Homo sapiens: one gene and its partner. The protein of the gene in region 2 purifies or fractionates together with the protein of the main gene of each other region. This does not show direct contact. Each region holds a gene or a part of one and is shown on either strand. Other genes may lie near its edges.

The links.
Region 1: the proteins of ACOX3 (region 2) and HERC3 purify together in Homo sapiens (affinity purification with mass spectrometry; 2 studies listed by BioGRID and IntAct, with this or other methods). This does not show direct contact.

What each region holds. Positions count from the first base shown.
Region 1 is NC_000004.12:88,650,442-88,659,513, reverse strand, and holds part of HERC3 (probable E3 ubiquitin-protein ligase HERC3), read right to left. Parts: intron 7,503-9,072; coding exon 7,426-7,502; intron 6,646-7,425; coding exon 6,424-6,645; intron 5,473-6,423; coding exon 5,381-5,472; intron 4,341-5,380; coding exon 4,210-4,340; intron 3,640-4,209; coding exon 3,479-3,639; coding exon of another isoform or gene 3,441-3,478; exon of another isoform or gene 2,080-3,440; intron 1,100-2,079; coding exon 1,023-1,099; intron 1-1,022. UniProt on the Homo sapiens protein: E3 ubiquitin-protein ligase which accepts ubiquitin from an E2 ubiquitin-conjugating enzyme in the form of a thioester and then directly transfers the ubiquitin to targeted substrates.
Region 2 is NC_000004.12:8,388,724-8,397,795, reverse strand, and holds part of ACOX3 (peroxisomal acyl-coenzyme A oxidase 3), read left to right. Parts: intron 1-676; coding exon 677-859; intron 860-3,053; coding exon 3,054-3,176; intron 3,177-5,342; coding exon 5,343-5,463; intron 5,464-8,061; coding exon 8,062-8,184; intron 8,185-8,509; coding exon 8,510-8,623; intron 8,624-9,072. UniProt on the Homo sapiens protein: Oxidizes the CoA-esters of 2-methyl-branched fatty acids.

The DNA of each region.
Region 1 (9,072 bases), about 80 Mb from region 2:
TGGAAAATAGCTAATCATCAGCTTTAGCTGTCCAGCCTACAGCCTCGGGCTCCACCAGGATTTTCCAACCTAATCACAGAATCAGAATGACTAGAAGGCAAATACTTTGTGTACTTAAAGATAGCTAAGTATCAAACTAATAGAGAAAGTTTCCAAGACAGAAAGAGCCCCTGGTTTCCACAGTTGCTCATTATCTTCCCAGTCAATTCTGACTCCTTTTTCTTCACTAACAGCCCATTCCCTTGCTCCTCCAAGAGAGTATAAGGATCCATGCACCACTCGGAGCTGGTCCTGTTGAAATGTTTGCTGAATAAAAGCAGGAAGGGTGGGGAAGAAGAGAAGAGAGGAGAGAAAGCACAGGGGAAGGAGTCCAGCACTGACAACAAATCTGTGGAGTTTTTCCAGACTGAATTCCCCCAGCAAGGAAGAGTGGAAGGAATTCGAGCCCTGTCACAGAAACCTGGATCCACACTCTACCTTCAGGCAGAAAGACAATGTCACAGTGTCTTTATCCACTATAGTGATGCAGGAGACAATGGAAGGGAAATTTTGGTGTCATGTCATAAGCAGATTACAAATAATAAAATACATCTGAAAATTGTGGTACCTCTTACATACATATATATACTCAATCACATCAAACAAAGAAACCCACCAAGTTCTCAAACACCTAGCATTTGTTGCCACTTAACAGGGAAGAAAAGAAATGGAAAATCAAATAATGCCAAAGTAAGCACCAACTCCCTAGGCATCCTTTACAGAGTTTCTGGAACAAGTACAAATATAAATAAATAATTTCAAATTATAAATTAGAACTCCATAATTCCAGGAGAATTGTTGGCACTTCAAGGGAGCCAAATGGAGACAACTTCTTCCAGATTTAGTTTGCTTATTTTAAAAATAACATAGGATTGGTAGAAACAAAGAGTAACATTGCTCTTTATGTTGTAATTACTTGTTAAAAGAAATGTTGGTTCACTATTATTCCTTCCTGGAAATAAGAGTCACAAGAAAAATTTTACCTCGTATTTGGAGCAAAGTACAAAAGTCTGGTCTCCTCCAGAGAAGATCTGCTTAACGATATGATATTTAAAGCGATCTGTCAAAAAAAAAATTCCGAAAGCATATTTTTCATTAATTGAAGTTTCTCCTTGATCCCCTTTTCTACTGTCGCAGAATACACTTCAGAGTGGGTACCTATCCATTTTAATTGTGTCACAGAAGTAAGAAATCTTCTCCCCTGGCTCACTGCCTAGGACTGTTTCTACTTCAATTAAAAATAAATATATAAAATGGTATCCTCCACTCTAACTCTTCTTCTGCCCCTCCCCAACTGCCAGTGAATCCTGACCTAGTTTCTCTTTTTCATTCTAACTCTGTCATGCCACTGACCTGAAATCTGAAATGGGCACTATTCTTTATGGTAACAATTCAGCATGTGAGTGTGGTGGGCCCAGGCCCCGTCAGGACGAATCTTGCCACGGAAGGACCTCCGTTTCCTGCTCCCTGCTTTACCTCCCATCACACTGTGTCCACGGTGACATTCTCCTACTACCACGTTGCCTTTATTTCTAATACACCACACTATTTCACATCTCGGTGCCTCCCCCCTCTGCTGCCCCTGGCACATGGGATTCTCCATGAATGTGCCCACCGAGAGCACAACCTGAATGTGCTTCTGGAACTGCACCTTGGTGGTGCTCACACCAACTCCCTCACAGTCCTCTACACCTGGCTAACTCCAAATCATCCTTCGAGGCACAGCTCAAACTTCCTCTAACCACAATACTCCTCCATGCCTTCCTCTGTGCTCCCACATTACCAAGAGGGTTCCTAAAACCATGTCATTTACATAACTGACATTTACCTGCTTATGTTATAAAATCATTTTGGCAAACATCCAAGCACAAATTTAGGACCATGGAAGTCAGGTTATAATTCAACTTCAAAAATTTGTGGTTTTGAAATAACCAAAAAACACCTGAGTTGGTAAACTTTCTAAATAAATGTATTCCACGTATGAGTACAATGTCTTGGAGAAAAGAATTTACAAATTACAGAGAAGAGGACACAAAGCCATTCTTTTGCTTCTGGGAACATCACCCAGACAAAATCTTGTTTATTTATATTTTAAGTTGCACTACATTTCAGATGCTCATATATCCATTCCAAAAATGTCTACTGAGTGACAAGTTCATGCCAGGTCCTGTGCTATATGCTAGGTTTACAAAAAGGAAAAGAGTTTGTCTGTGTCCTTGAGTTTCTTATAATCCAGTACTAAAACTTATGATGGTTACTGTTTCAAACAAATTCCTGATCAAGCCATAAGTGTGTCACTTTATCGACTTCAAAATCAAAATTAATAAGTTACACTTCCTTTTAATGATTCTCTAGCTCCATTTCAGCCTCAGATTTATTATTTCAAGGTGAAGCAGTCATTCAATATTAATGACTGCCTGACTTTGATTTCCAATGAAACCAAGACTGCTATTTAACTATTTTTTAAGGGAAGAAAAAAAATGGCTTAAAAAGAAATCACATCATGTTATATACCAAAATGCCAACAGCAAAGTAGAGGTAACATAGTACACATGATTTAGAATGACCTGGGTTTAAATCCTGCCTCCAGAATCTATGTGATCTTGGGCAAATTACTTGACCTCCTTAAGACTTTGTTCCCTTATCTCTAACATGGGGATAATAACCACTAACTAGTTCTTAGATTATTTTGAGTGCTTTGCATAGTAATGAAACGTCATTAAGCATTCAATACATGCGAACTGTCATTATTAGCAACAACAATAAAATGTATACACCACCACCAAGGTCTGTGGAAACAAAATAACTGGTATAGTTTGAATGTATGTTCTGGTCAAAACTCATGTTGAATTGCAGTAATCCCAATGTTGGAGGTGAGGCATGGTGGTATGTGTTTAGATCATGAGGGCGGATCCCTCATGAATGGCTTGGGCCATCCCCTTGGTGATAAGTGAGCTCTTGCTCTGAGTTCACATGAGATCTGGTGGTGTAAAAAGTATGGCACCTCCTCTCCACTCTTCCTCTTGCTCCTGCTTCTGCCATGTGAAGTGTCTGCTCCTTCTTTGCCTTCTGCCATGACTGTAAGATTCCTGAGGCCTCCCCAGAAGCCAAGCAGATGGCTGCATCATGCTCCCTGTAGAGCCTGCAGAACTGTGAGCCAATTAAAACTCTTTTCTTCATAAATCACCCTGTTTCAGGTGCTCTTTACAGCAATGCAAGAACGGCCTAACACAACAGTATTTCCTGCTTTATTTATTCTCTAGGATCTCAACTCTACAGCTTCATGCATAGTAAGTACAGAAATTATTAATTGATGTTAAAAAATACCTTATCTTCATTCCCTCCAAAAGACCTCAAAGTAAGTAATAGATACATATTCTGTAAACAACTGTTTTCATCACTTAAAATACCTTTAAATTCCAGAGACAATCATTCTTACCAGCTCGGGCTGAAAGCTGGCCACTGTGGGCAGCCCAGTAACCCTTGACAGGAGATGGGCACTTAACATTACAAGTGTGCCCAGTTCCTAATTGACCTCTTGCTCCACAACCAAATGCATAGATGAGTCCAGAAGAAGGCACGAAGGCTAGGGTATGTTGTCTGTGAAAAAATAATTTAACTCATCAGCATAGTTTCTACTAATGTGGATGTACACTCTGACTCTGACTTTTAACTTCCACATGTGCACAGCACAGGGTGCTCCTATAGAGCCTTTCCCATGTTAACACGTGACTCTTCTTGCAGCGGCTGCTCTCCATAATACTATCCTCTAACACTCTAGATCATGAGGAGGGTGGCAAGTCAGGAAAGAGCTGAATGATCTACTGCATGTGGCCTCTAAGATGAACAGAGAGAAGCAGGGTAGACTCAGGCAAAAATTTCCAAGAAGTTCTTTGGGACTCTCTCACTTTTCCTTTCTTTATCCCTTCCCCACATCCTGCTACTCTTTATCCCAAAAGAAGCCTAATGTCTCCGTGTTGCTCTGCTTATCTAAAACCCTTCCTTGCCACACTCTATCAAGGTCTTTCTCCACATTTCACCATAGGCGTGCATGCAGTTAAGATCTCTTAAAATGACGGTGACTAGGTATAATCACATTCTTCATCACTACAAAGATAAGACCAATTTCTGGGTCCTAGTGAATACAAGCAAGCTTTGAGGAACACTCACCTGCCACAAGCAATTTGAGTTACTTCACTACCCATCAGCTCTAGAACTCTTCTAGGGTTAACCTCATCATTCATGGAGTCGTGTCCAAGTTGCCCACAGGAACCAGCGCCAAAGGTAAACACACCTCCACTCTAACAAGGAACAAACACCATAGGACTTCACTGTATCTTTAAGGGTATACCTCTAAACCCTGTATACAAAATGCCTATCACAACAATGTGCACAAGAGCACTACATTCACTTGACACTTGGCCAAAATCACTTTGTAAGGATGTTCATTAAATAGAAAAATAATAAAAAGGGAATTTCAGACTGCATCTTTATGGAACAAAGATAGCAATGCTCAAAGGAATGTGTGCCTTCTGTAAATTTTTAAAATCGTTTGAAAGTACAATGATGTGTTAGGAAGCAAAATTTTAAAAAAGGAGAAACTAGGAGCTAGGCTAAATGAGATGATTTTACATGATCATTCACATGTAAGAAATTAGGTGCTCTACAAATTCCTTGGTAAGTAAGCTGTTTTTTTAACAGCTGTATTTAAATAAATGTTAAGGCATTTTATCAAAGTGAACGTAGAATAATATTTGTTCAATATAAAAATACATTTTCATTCTCTCTAGAATGTATTTAGAAGCAAAAGAAACATGATTATTTTAAAACATTAATTAAATTGCTGTTTCTTTTTTACATATTTAAATGACTTGTTTTAAAGGAACATAGGACATCATTTTATATATATTATATATACATAAAATAACAAATAAAAATAACAAAGTGCTGTCTTTGTTCCATAAAGAACCAAGGAATTTATATATATATAAATATATACATTATATTTATATATATAATCTACATTTTTATATAATCTACATTATATGTGTGTATATATATATAATCTACATTATGTGTGTGTGTGTATATATATATATATATATATATATATATATATATATATGAAAAATCTACAAGATTACCAAAGAGGATAACAGAGACATACAAAAAAGTAGTCTTTTTCTATTCCTTTGGAAAACAACAAACCCACATAAAAGAGAGCATTCAAGTTCAAGCCACAATACTGTAATCACACACCATCACTACACTAACATAATCAAGCAATTCTAATCACCCATCATATCCCCAGCACCAAAGTAAAATACTCTGAGCTCCTTACCTTTGTGAGAACTGCTGTGTGTTCTTCTCCACAACTAATATAGACAACTTTTTGCGTGCGTAAGAGTTTTACATGGCATGGAGATTCTCGATCTAGAATAAATTAAATATCAGAATATCACTACCATTTGCCTTTGAGATGAAATATACACAACTATCTTGGCATGAATTTTGGATTCCTGGATTCCTGACGCATGTTCAGTTTCCTGCCTGCATCTGTACTTGGATATCCAACAGACTTCTCAGTTTTAATTTACCTAAAACCTACCTCATGGTTTCCCTACACTCTCCAACCCTGCCCACTCTCCAGCTCACTTTACTACACACGGTTTTCCCCATTTCAGAAACAGTCATTTTGCCCTTCCAGCTGTTCCTTTATTTCAAACCACACATCCAACAGTGAACAAAACCAACTGGCCTCATCTTCAAAATATGTTTAAAATCTGACTTTACTCCCACAACCTCCAAGCTGGTCTTCCAGCTTCCCCCTTGACCCACTACAGCCAAAGCCAAAGTGGATCACGCTTCTCCTCCAAACCCTCAGGGTCTTCCCCTCTCACTGAGAAAACCAGTTATATCCTCACCCTGCCCCTCAGGGCCCTGCATAACTGGGTCTACACGACTTCTCTGACCTGCAGCTGTGCTACTCTTCCCCTTCTCTCCAACTACATCTCTTCCCACATGAGCACCTTTGCACACCCAGTTCTCTCTGACAGGAACATTTTTCACCCAGACATTTACATGTCCCATCTCCCACCTGATTTCCTACAGGTTCTGCTCAAACATTTTCTTATCAGAGGGGCCCTTCCCCACCACCTTATGTAAAGCAGGAAGCTGCACTCTCAAATCCTGTGTATTTACTGGTTTTGTTGCACCTCTACTCACTAGAATACAGTCTCCACTAAGACGAGGATGTTCTCTATTGTGTTCACTGCTTCTCCCTTAGTATCTCACATGGGGCTAGCACATAGTAGATCCTCAAGAAGCATGTGTTAAATGAATGTGCTTTTAAACTAAATACATACATATGAAGGGTTTACCTACCTTTTTCATCACTGAGCCCTAGCTGCCCGGCATTATTCATCCCCCAGCCAAAAACAGCTCCTGAGAGAGACAGGGCAAAGCTGTGAGCCCCTCCGGCAGCCACCTGAGCCAGTGGGATCCCCTCCAGGGACCTCACCCTCTGTGGGCTGGCTTGGGAGGGGAACTCCTTCCCTAAGCCAAGCTGCCCATGGCTGTTCTTTCCCCAGGTGAAGAACTGGCCATCTGAAATAACAGGATAACTGGTATTACCATAAAATGATACAAGCTCCACACACAAAAATAATCTAGTTATTAGGGTCATTTGCCAGTTGCCCCCCAACACCAAACCCACCCAAGAGCAAAGGAACAGAGATACTTCATGCTATCAGACTGCCAAAACCAAAACTCCCAAGTGATATAACAGAGAGGTAAGCTGAGTCTTACTGCCCTTCAAAGGCTATTAAAATTTATACACAGAAAATATTAAATGTATAAGTAAATTCAATTTCGGACAGGCCAATTACCAGGCTTAAGCAAGATCACACTAGTTCTGACCACACTAAGACTATGAGACCCAAGACTTCGGGAGGTCCAGCAATGACCACTTGGTCTGCTCTGCAGATAATCAAGCAGGACACAGAAGTGCAGATTTATTTAGGTTTCTCCAACTCCTTCTTTTTCATTCATTTGGGAGCTTGATAGTGGAATGTAGCTTGAGAGTTGGCTGTCGCTAAGAAAAATCAATCTCCTCCATGCTCAGAACACCTAGGTATGGTCCTGCCCCCTGCTTATCTTCCCCTGTGAAAGTTGGAGCAGCAATGATGACCACCTACTTCATCACCCACACCCTGAGAAAAGGATGAGCTATGCAAAGCCCATATGAGAATTGTCACTGTCCAACAGCAATGCATAGACCCTAACCAGTTAATTCAAAGTTTTCAGTTAGATAATATCACACAAAAAGACAAAGAGAAATGTTTTCAAAATTAACATAGCATTAGCATATGTTTAATGTTACTTTACCAGCCGCAAGAGCCAAGCAATGCCAGTTGCCACAGGAAACTTGTAATATTGTTTGCTGGTTCAGCTTTTGTATTAACCTAAAACAGAAAAGGCTTTCTTTTTCAGATAGATATTCACACACAAACACAATTATCAGAAATATTCCCAATTAAATAAAATGTCAGTAATAAATAACACCATCTTGCCTAAAAGTCTTTTTAAGGCCAGGCACAGTGGTTCACGCCTGTAATCTCAGCACTTTGGGAGGCCAAGGTGGGCTTATCACCTGAGGTCAGGAGTTCGAGACCAGCCTGGCCAATATGATGAAACCCCATCTCTACTAAAAATACAAAAAAAATCAGCCGGGCGTTGTGGCACATGCCTGTAATCCCAGCTACTCGGGAGGCTGAGGCAGAGAATTGCTTCAACAATTCCCCATCACCATTACTCTTGTCACAATCAGTTGTAGAAAAGAAGCAGGTCAGAAGAACAAAGACAGATAATAGAGAAATTGTACCCTTGAGGTGGGGAAGAGGGAGTCCATACAGTGCAAGCACATACTGTATTTTACCTACTTGTCTCCTTCTATCCTCCCCATAACCCTGTAAGGTACATAGTAAGTAATTTTTAAGTTAGGAAACTGAGGCTTAGAAAAGTTAACCTGCCCAAGGTCATTCACCTTACAAGTAAAAGAGCCAGTATTGGAATCCAAGGCTTGTTTGACATCAAAGCTATGTTACTTTCCACAATACAAAGGTATAAATTAGTGAATTTATTTCAATTAACTTATAATAGAAAACTATATACAAATCAAAGTCTTGGAAGTCATCCATAATTTGAACATGAATAATGAATATTAAGCTATTACTGTAGAACAGATTACTTCATTTTTAAAAATGAAATGCCGTTAAAAACCTTAATTGTGTTTTGGTCATCAACAAATGAAATATTTTTGCCATTAATGTTATAAACATTTTCCCTAGTATTACACACAACATAACATCTAGCACTTCTTTTTTCTTACTGCCACTCTTCCTCTCCCCACAAAATTAAATTAATTTTTGGAAGAAATGAATCTAAGACATTACCTGTCCTAAATCAAGAACTGAATCAAATCACTCTTACCTCCATGGTCCTCTTATTTAACACAACTTTTGATTAAAGAGACAAAAATCTAACAAGGGCAAAAAAGAAGAGGAAGAAGAATATGCTGTTCTTTAAAGGGGACGATAATTAGGCAGAGGAGGAGAGGCCATTTATTAAATTTGTACTCAGCAATGTATGTGATAGGCACTCCTAGCAATGGTGATGCTAAAATAAATCATCCAATTATCCTGCCATTAATAGCTCACATCTTTGTAGTAAAAACAGATATTAAATAAACAATTACAAAGAATGTGTACTATAGTAGTGGTATGTGGAACACCTGTAGCACAAAGGAGTAAGAATTGAATAAAGGAAATAAAATGGCAGCTCTTTGATCATTAAGAACCTTCAACAAACTGAGACACCACCACTAAAAAGTCCATTTGAAAGTAACTTCAATATTTGGGATGTTCTCTTAGTGGCAACTATTAGATACTTAGCTAAATCATCTAAGGTTTAGATTTAAGTGAATCTTTAAGAGACTCAAAACCTACTGTATTAACATTTTTGCATTAAAGAATC
Region 2 (9,072 bases):
CCTTGGAAGAAGGACCTAGATGGTCAGAGGAGTGGCCCGATGGGGCAGCACGGGGCAGGGCAGGAAGGACGGTCAGATCACGTGGCAAGGGCTGTAGATTAGATGTGCCCACCGCAGCCTGGACAGGCCTTAGCAACAGCCTCTGCTGACGCCGCTGATGCGTGCGAGGAGATAGTGGACGGAAGATTCCAGCTAGACGCACGTAAAGGAACTGCCTGTTCACAGGCACACAAGGATCAAGAGGTGTCCGTGAAACCCCCTGGAAAGGCTGCCTGTAATGGACTCCGCCCCTGCCCTCTGGCAGTACAGGCCACATCTGATTCTTGCCAAGGTTAAAGGTGGGCCTTGGAATCTCCAGGCAGATGGTTTGCAAGTCCCCACAGTGGGAGCACCCTCACCCAGCGCTGTCATACCATTCCCTCTGCTAGGACTGTACCTTCTCCAGGCAGCTGGGTGTCCCCTCCCTGGCACCCCCATTCCATCCACGGTTCATCAGTGACATCTCTACCCGCCTGCCGCACCGTCCTGTGTCTTGGGCGCCCTGGGGATGGGGCCTGGGCAGGTGGGCACAGGTCTACTTTGGATGAACAAACGAGGGCACCTTCGCCTCTGAGCCACTCTGCCCAAGGTGGCCGCGCAGCCGGGCTTGAGCTTATCATCTGTGTCCCTCCCGTAGGACGTCAGGCAGCGCTTTGGAGCGTCCCTGGGGAGCCTGTCCTCGGGCCGGGTCTCCATCGTGAGCCTGGCCATCCTTAACCTAAAGCTGGCCGTGGCCATCGCTCTTCGCTTCTCAGCCACTCGGCGTCAGTTTGGACCCACAGAGGAGGAGGAAATACCAGTGCTTGAGTATCCAATGCAGGTATGAGGTTTTCAAGCATCCTTTCACTGTCTCTCTATTTTATATGCAAATTCACTTCTTTTACATAGTTGCCGTTTGGTTACTGGGAGTTGATCAAAGCTCTTAAGGCAATTAACAGGATGATTAGTTAGCGGGAGTGCGGCATCTCAGGCCGCAAGGCTTCCAGCAAATGGTTTTTAATTTAAAAAGAGTAGATACGAAGTAGCCAAAAAAGGAAGATGGAAAGAAGCAAGTCTTTTTTTTTTTTTTTTTTTTTTCCCAGACGGAGCCTTGCTCTGTCACCAAGGCTGGAGTGCAGTGGGCATGATCTTGGCTCACTGCAACCTCCGCCTCCCAGGTTCAAGTGATTCTCGTGTCTCAGCCTCCCGAGTAGCTGGGATTATGGGCATGCACCACCATGCCCGGCTAATTTTTGTATTGTTAGTAGAGACAGGGTTCTGCTGTTTTGGCCAGGCCGGTCTCGAACTCCTGACCTCCAGTGATCCACCTGCCTCAGCCTCCCAAAGTGCTGGGATTATGGGCATGAGTCACTGTGCCCGGCCAGAAAGAAGCAAGGATGGGGCGGCTCTGGGAGGTGGGTGTGTGCACGGCCGCACGTTCAGGTGAGGCCGCCACAGCTTGGCGGGTAGTGGCCTTGCACGCCCTGTGCACACTCTTTGACACTTTCATCCCATCCCTAAGAAATGATTCCTGGCAGGTGATCTGGAAGAAGCAGCAGCTGAGCGTGCAGCCCTGTTCACTGTGATGGCATTTAGAACAGTGGCGTGGGCACAGAGCGTTGGCCCTACACGTCCCCAGAGATGGGGCAGCTGTTGACATGCACAGATGCAGCCCAGGCAGCAGCGTGGAAAAGCACAGACATTGTTACATGGAAGGGGGATGAACTGTCACAGCGAACGTGCCCTGTGCTCTGGGTTTGGTCTTCACAGCTAAGAGGGTTGGGCTTAGTCCCACTTTACAGGTGAGAGAACTGAGGATCAAATAAGAAATCCAGTTAAAGTGCACAGGCTAACTCAGGCCCAGGTCCCAGGCCAAGCTGTGCATGAATAAAGGTAGATTTGGGTGAAACTTCCAGGAAATTGTAACAGAATTGCAGTTGTTTCTGTCCACATCCTTTGACCAGGGCTATGAGCCTGTTTAGTAAGTGTTGCCATTCATGCCTGTGTGGCACCCATCCCCTCCCGTGTGTGGTCACAGCACTCTGGGTGCCAAGGGCAGCTCGGCGGTCAAGAGAGCGCACTGGGGCCACCATGCCTGGCCTTACCACCAAGGTCCACCCCCAGCTGGCTGTGTGCCCCCAGGCAAGGTCCTTAGCCTTTCTGTGCTCTTGCTTTATCATTTGTAAGTTAGAACTGATGATAAAACTTCTTCCTAGGATCAGTGTGAGGATTAACAAAGTTAGGGCATGGAGGCAGCTGGCGCCATGTCTGCTCAGCACTCTTGACACGTTAGACCATGGTGGTGATGGCGGTTTCCTCAGGATCCTCTCAGGCTTGTCCTGCCATGTACCCAGCCACCCACCCACCCATCCATGCATCCCCCCACCTGTCCACGCATCCCCCCACCTGTCCACGCATCCACCCACCCATCCATCTACCCATCTACGGATTCATCCATCCACCCACCCACACATCCACCTACCCACCACCCACCATCCATGCATCCATCCACCCACCCACCCACCCCCCCATCCAACAATAGGTGGACCCTATCCTGTTTCAGACAAAGTGAAAAAGACATGCACTCAGCCTTTCGAGGGGCTGCCAGCTCTGTGTGGGCCTCAGCTTTCCCATCTGTCCCAGGGTGACGGCCTCATCCTCACAGGCTCATGCTGTCAGCCAGTCAGTCCGTGTGCCGGGGAGTTGGCCCCTAGCAGTGCTGCCTTCTTAATTCACAGATAGACTGGCACTTTGTTCTGTAGTGACTTTGATGGGACAGCTGTGAATAGCGGCCATTTAGCGAATTGCGTTTGAGCTTGTCTGTCAAGGGCTATGGGTGAAAGCCGAACTGGCTGAGTTGAGAGCGTGTCAGGGTGAAGGCTTTCTGATGTGCCGGGAAGACATGTGAAGACCTTCAGCGCTAGTGGGTGTGTGGCCCTGACGGCCTCTCCCTGCACTGGCTTTCATGGTCCCTGGGATGGGCTGCCCTTCATGGGAACCACGATGTGTTCACGCAGGTGTCTTGTCTGTTCTAGCAATGGCGCTTGCTTCCATATCTGGCAGCTGTCTACGCCTTAGACCATTTCTCCAAGTCGCTCTTCCTGGACCTGGTGGAGCTCCAGCGAGGACTTGCATCGGGAGACCGCAGCGCCAGACAGGTGAGGTGGTGTCTGCTTCCTCAGCAGCATCGTTTAAATCTCACACGGTTGGAGCAGCATAGATTCAACCTTCATTTCAAAGCAAAATCAGTCCTTTGATTTGCGAGGACAGAGCATTCCTCCAGTTGTTCCCACCCACTCGGAGCTCTTGGCCTCTGCCGCGATTGAACGGGCTGGGCACGCGTCCACACCCCTGCCTCTCAAGGATGTGCTGACACGACTCCCGGTTCCAGTCTGTGAGTTCAGCTGTTGGTCTCCTTTTGAGAACATGACGGTTTTGCAAAATCCACGTTACCCGCCCCTCAGTGGATTTCATGGTTCTGAGCCTTTTGTAAACAGCTGCACAAAGGTCTGAATCCCACTGACTGGATTTGAGTTGACAGTCAGAGGATTTGTGCCAGAAACGAGCGTGCAAATCCCGAGATCAGCCTCGGCATAAAGAGACATCGGGAACGGATTTCTTTGTAGATGATTATGAACTGATTTTCCATTGTCCCTCCTGCTGCCTCCTGAGCAAGAGTGAAATGTGAATCAAAAGAAATAACCGTGTTTGAAAGCAGAGGAGAAACGCCACAGATTGCTGTTATGTACAACATCAGAAAAAGCCTGTATCTAATTAGCATATCTTGAAATATTATCGGTGTCCACATTCACGGCAGATGATGGCGAAGGGATGACCTGCAGGATTGATGGCAGAGCAAACCCCAGGCCTGGAGGCCTGAGGAGGGAGCGCTTCTGACCACTAAAGGGGTTAAGCCTGTGTTTTCCCTGGAGCGTGAGTCAGTGGAGCTTTTGCCAGCTGACACTTGCATTGTTCTCCTGTGAATAATGTTGTAAAGGGTGACCAGGCTGATTCTTTCTGAAACTCAGTGGTTTAACCCAGGCAGAGGAGGGCCTCAGCTCAGCCCCTTATGTGAAGTTGAAAACACTCATAAAATGGGTCACTGGACTTAGCATGCGTGTGTGTGTGTGTGTGTGTGTGCGTGTGTGTGTGTGTGTGTGTGCGTGTGTGTGTCTTCCTCTTAATTGTTTTTCCTTTTTAATTGTCTTTCTTTTTTAAAATTAAAAATTCTTCTTTTACTCTGAATCAGTCTCTTAAGTTTTTGTTTGTTTGTTTGTTTGTTTGTTTTTGAGACGGAGTCTCGCTCTGTTGCCCAGGCTGGAGTGCAGTGGTGCGATCTTGGCTCACTGCAATTTCTGCCTCCTGGGTTCAAGCAATTCTCTTGCCTCAGCCTCCCAGACTAGCTGGGACTACAGGTGCCCGCCACCACACCTGGCTAATTTTTTTTATTTTTCAGTAGAGACAGGGTGTCACCATGTTGCCCAGGCTGTTCTCAGACTCCTGAGCTCAACTGATCTGCCCGCCTCGGCCTCTCAAAGTGCTGGCATTATAGGCGTGAGCCACTGTGCCTGGCCCAGCCTCTTAAGTTTTCATCATTAGATATCAAGCAGAAGCAAAGGAGTCTTCTTTCTTTTTTTTTTCCCCTTAAAAAAAAGCCTGCAGCACCTGCTATTCCCAGGCGGTCTCCCATCCAAATACTAACCACGCCCGACCCTGCTTAGCTTCACGAGATCAGGCTCATTCAGGGTAGTTTGGCCATGGACAGCAAAGGAGTCTCAATAAAACATGTTAGGCCTGAGGGAGGCACGGTGAGCCCCCACACAGAGCAGACCATCAGTTACCGAGGCGCTTGCAGCCTTCTGGGAATGGACTGGTCCCGGCCCTTCCCTGTCCTGGGAGCGAGCACTGTCTGCGGTGCTGAGTCTGGTTCCCTGGCCTTTCTTCATGGTTTCGCTGCAAACAATTGCAACCTTCCATGGTGTGTCATTCACTTTGACGTTTGTGAACTTTATATAAAGTGGGCCATGACGCACATTCTTCTGCAGTTTGCTTCTGGGACCCGTGTTAGGGCCCTGAGAGCTATTTGCTGTGTAGAGCTGTGTTTTCATTGTTGTGAAATGGTATGAGCGTACCACAGTGTATCCATACTTGGATAAAGACCCTTTTTTATTTCTAATTACAATTAGGTTTCCTCTTCTGTCATTTTCGGGATGTCTTGTATTAGACTAGAGGTGATATGGTGGTTTGATGCTATTGCTGACTTATGACTTTTTGGTGTCTAAAGTCTCTTTTCACCTGTTCTTGTTGGATTCCCTCACCCAAAGGCAGAGCTTGGACGTGAGATCCACGCCCTGGCATCGGCCAGCAAGCCCCTGGCCTCGTGGACCACCCAGCAAGGAATTCAGGAATGCCGGGAGGCGTGTGGAGGACACGGCTATCTGGCCAGTAGGTTTTGGAGAAGCGCATGGTGGTTTCCTGTCCTTAGCCCTGCTGTTTGACTCTAGACCAGGGGTCGGCAGACTGCGGCCTGAGGACCAAATCCAGCCTGCCACCTGTTTTTGCAAATAAAGTTTTATTGGAACACAGCCAGCCACCCCCGTTCATTTGCACATTTCCTGCAGCTGTTTTCGCACTGCAAGGGCAGAGATGAGTAATCGCAGCTGTGACAGAGACCATGTGGCTTACAGAGCTGAAAATATTTACTCTCTGGTCCATTGCAGAACAAGTTTGCCAACCCCTGCCCTAGATAGATCCCACTGCTTTCAGATGCCTGATGCTTCTTGGCCAAAATATAGGCAGAGAGCAGCTGATCTGCTCATTTGAATTTTAACTATTTGGTTAACAGCTTGGTAGTAAACTAGCACCATGTTTTGTTTGAATAGAAAATTCTTACACTTAGATAAAGAGTTAGTTATATCGGCATTGATGATGACTGAGGCAGCTGTTATATGGTTAAGAGCGGAGGCCACCAGCTTGCCTGGGATTGAGTCCTGGCTCCATCTAACAGCCTGGTAACTGTGGGCAGGTTGCTTAACCTCACTGTGCTCAGTTTTCTTATTTTTAAAGTGGGGGTGATAATAGTGTACCCACAACATAGGTTCTTGCCAGAATTAAGTGAATTACCACGTATGAAGTGTAAGCATGGTATCTGGCATGTAGTGCGTGCCCAATGACTTTTTTATTTGCTAATGCTGTTATTATTAGAATTATCATCAGCATTATTTACAGCTTACCTGCAAAACTTCCCGTGTGCTAATCTTAAATAATTAACTGGCAAAAACTGGTTGCTCAAAGAAGGCCATGTACACACTCAAAACAGCCACAGCATCAGCAAAACTCTCTTGCCCTCCAGGAGCACTTGGTCCTTGCCAAGTTTGTGAGAGTTTTTGTGATGCTCTATCTAGAACTACACACACACTTTCAGCGATCATCCGCCCACCACTGCAGTTCTAACTCGCACCTGTTCCAGCATGGGCTGTTAGCAACGTGGCCCCTCACTCCCACCACAATCTGTCTTTGTCACTTACTGACATGCGGGTAGCCATGGCTGTACACAAGTTACTCATTTGCATGCTTTGTCCTCTGCGCAATGCCCTTAGTAGTTTTTGTCTTTGTAACTCATCGGGATTCTATAAATAGTTGAATAAGGAAATTGAATCTTGCAGTACTGCAGACAACAAAGATGATGGAATCAAGATTAATCATATACATATACATATACATATACATATACATATACATATACACATACATATACATATACACATACATATACATATGCTGGGATTGAGACCAATATGACCGAGGCTCCATCTAGGTTTAGAAAATCAATTGCAAATGTTTCTGCTGAGGCCTCTCCCAGCTCTTGTTCAGTGGCCAACCTGTTACGTGGCAGGAAGCTCGTGGCATGATTTGACAGTAAGTCAGGAGAAAATCAGGTGTTCTAGGTGATCACAAGGCTAATCACAAGCGTGTTGGCAGTATGGCTGCAATAGGACTCCTTTCATGCTCTCAGGATCCATCAGTCACAGTACGTGAGTGTGAGAAGTCAGCTCCACTCCCTTCCTGCTAGGCCCATCCCAGCCTCACATTCAGAGAACACTTTCCATCACAGTAGGCAGGCTCAAGTGTGTGAGGGTCTGGAAAGCAAGCCTGACAACATATGTGAAGGCATCCAGCTAACTGATAGGAAAGACAAAAAACAGTTATCTTGAAATTTCCTGTGTTAAAAGAAGAGTTCATTCAGTTATGGACGGAAGAAGGGTAGCCCTGGGGGCATCAGCTCGCTGAGATGGCTCCCTCCTATCAGCAACCCCATGCCAGGGGAGGCTCTGCAGGGCTTGCTGACAGCAGTGAGGAGCTGGAGGTGGGATATGAAGCACAGGTGGCAGTTCTTTGTGTCTGGTCAAGCTGAGTTCAGGGCTTTTTTTTTTTTGGTCAGAGTCTTGCCCTGTCCCGGAGGCTGGAGTACAGTGGCATGACCATGGCTTACTTTTGCCTCAAATGCCTGGGCTCTTAAGCAATCCTCCCACCTCAGCCTCCTGGGTAGCTGGGACTAAAGGTGCGTGCCACTATGCCCAGCTAATTTTTTTTTTCATTTTTTATAGAGATAGGGTCTCACTATGTTGCCCAGGCTGGTCTCAAACTCATGGCTTTTTTTGTTGTTGTTGTTGTTGAGACAGGGTCTTGCTCTGTCACCCGGGCTGGAGTGCAGTTGCGCAATCTCGGCTCACTGCAACCTCCGCCTCCCAGGCTCAAGCGATTCTCCTGCCTCAGCCTCCCGAGTAGCTGAGATTACAGGCACACACCACCACACCTGGCTATTTTTGTATTTTTAGTAGAGGTGGGTTTCACCATGTTGGTCAGGCTGGTCTTGAACACCTGGCTTCAAGTGATCCACCCGCCTCGGCCCCCCAAAGTGCTGCCATTACAGGTGTGAGCCACCGCACCCAGCCTCTTAAGGCTTTTTAAATTCTCACATAGTGACAGGCTGCTTCTCAAATATGCGTCTTAAATGATGGTACTATTGTGGCTTTGTTGCAGTGAACCGGTTGGGTGTCCTTAGAGATGACAACGATCCCAACTGCACATACGAAGGTGACAACAACATCCTGCTGCAGCAGACAAGCAACTATTTGCTGGGTCTCCTGGCACACCAGGTCCACGGTGAGGCTCTGCTGCACACTGGTGGGGGCGCTGGAACCCAACTGGGGCAGGGGTGGGTTCTCCTGGCCTCACTGATTCAGCTGTTCTGTGAATGCATCCTAGGTTTGCAGAAGGAAAGAAATGTTATTAGATAGTGCCGACCAACTCCCCAAGGCATGGGCAAAGGCTGGGGTGGGGAGGGTCCTTGAGACCCAGACCCTCGCCTGTGGGTCTGTGGCCGTCGGGTCCTCTGGACACTCTCTGTGCTTTGGGGTGCCCCCAGCTTGGGGTTCCCAATGGTTTGGGTTCCTGTCTTCCACCAAAGTCACTGGAATGTGTGTCCTAGATGGAGCTTGCTTCCGCAGTCCGCTGAAGTCAGTGGACTTTCTGGACGCCTATCCCGGCATCCTTGACCAGAAGTTTGAGGTCTCCAGTGTTGCCGACTGCTTGGACTCTGCAGGTAAACACACAGGTGGAGGGCTCCCCTGGCCTCCTGATTTCCTGTCATTCCCACCAGGAAACGCACCGTGCCTCGGTGAGGGGACCCTTGGCAGTTCCAGCCGGGGCAGCAGTGGTGGTGGGAGGCCCCGCATGCAGCTTGTCCTGGGCTGGCTCATGGACTATCTCTTTGTGCCTGACGCCGAGTTAGGCGCTGACTCCACAGATGAATTGAAGGATGCCCACTTGCCACCTTATACCTTGCCTCTTGCCTTTCCCTCCCATAGGATAAAGGGCGTGAGAGGCCACCTGGCCTGGTCTCTGTCCACTAAGCAGCCTCTGCCCCCTGCCCTGGTGCCTGGGCTGCTGCTGTCCCTGGGCCCTCCCAGCCACCTCACCTGTCAGTCTTCCCCACTCCCAGGCCCTGCTGGCTCCCCAAACAGCAGATGCCCCTTCCCGCCCTGGCGCACC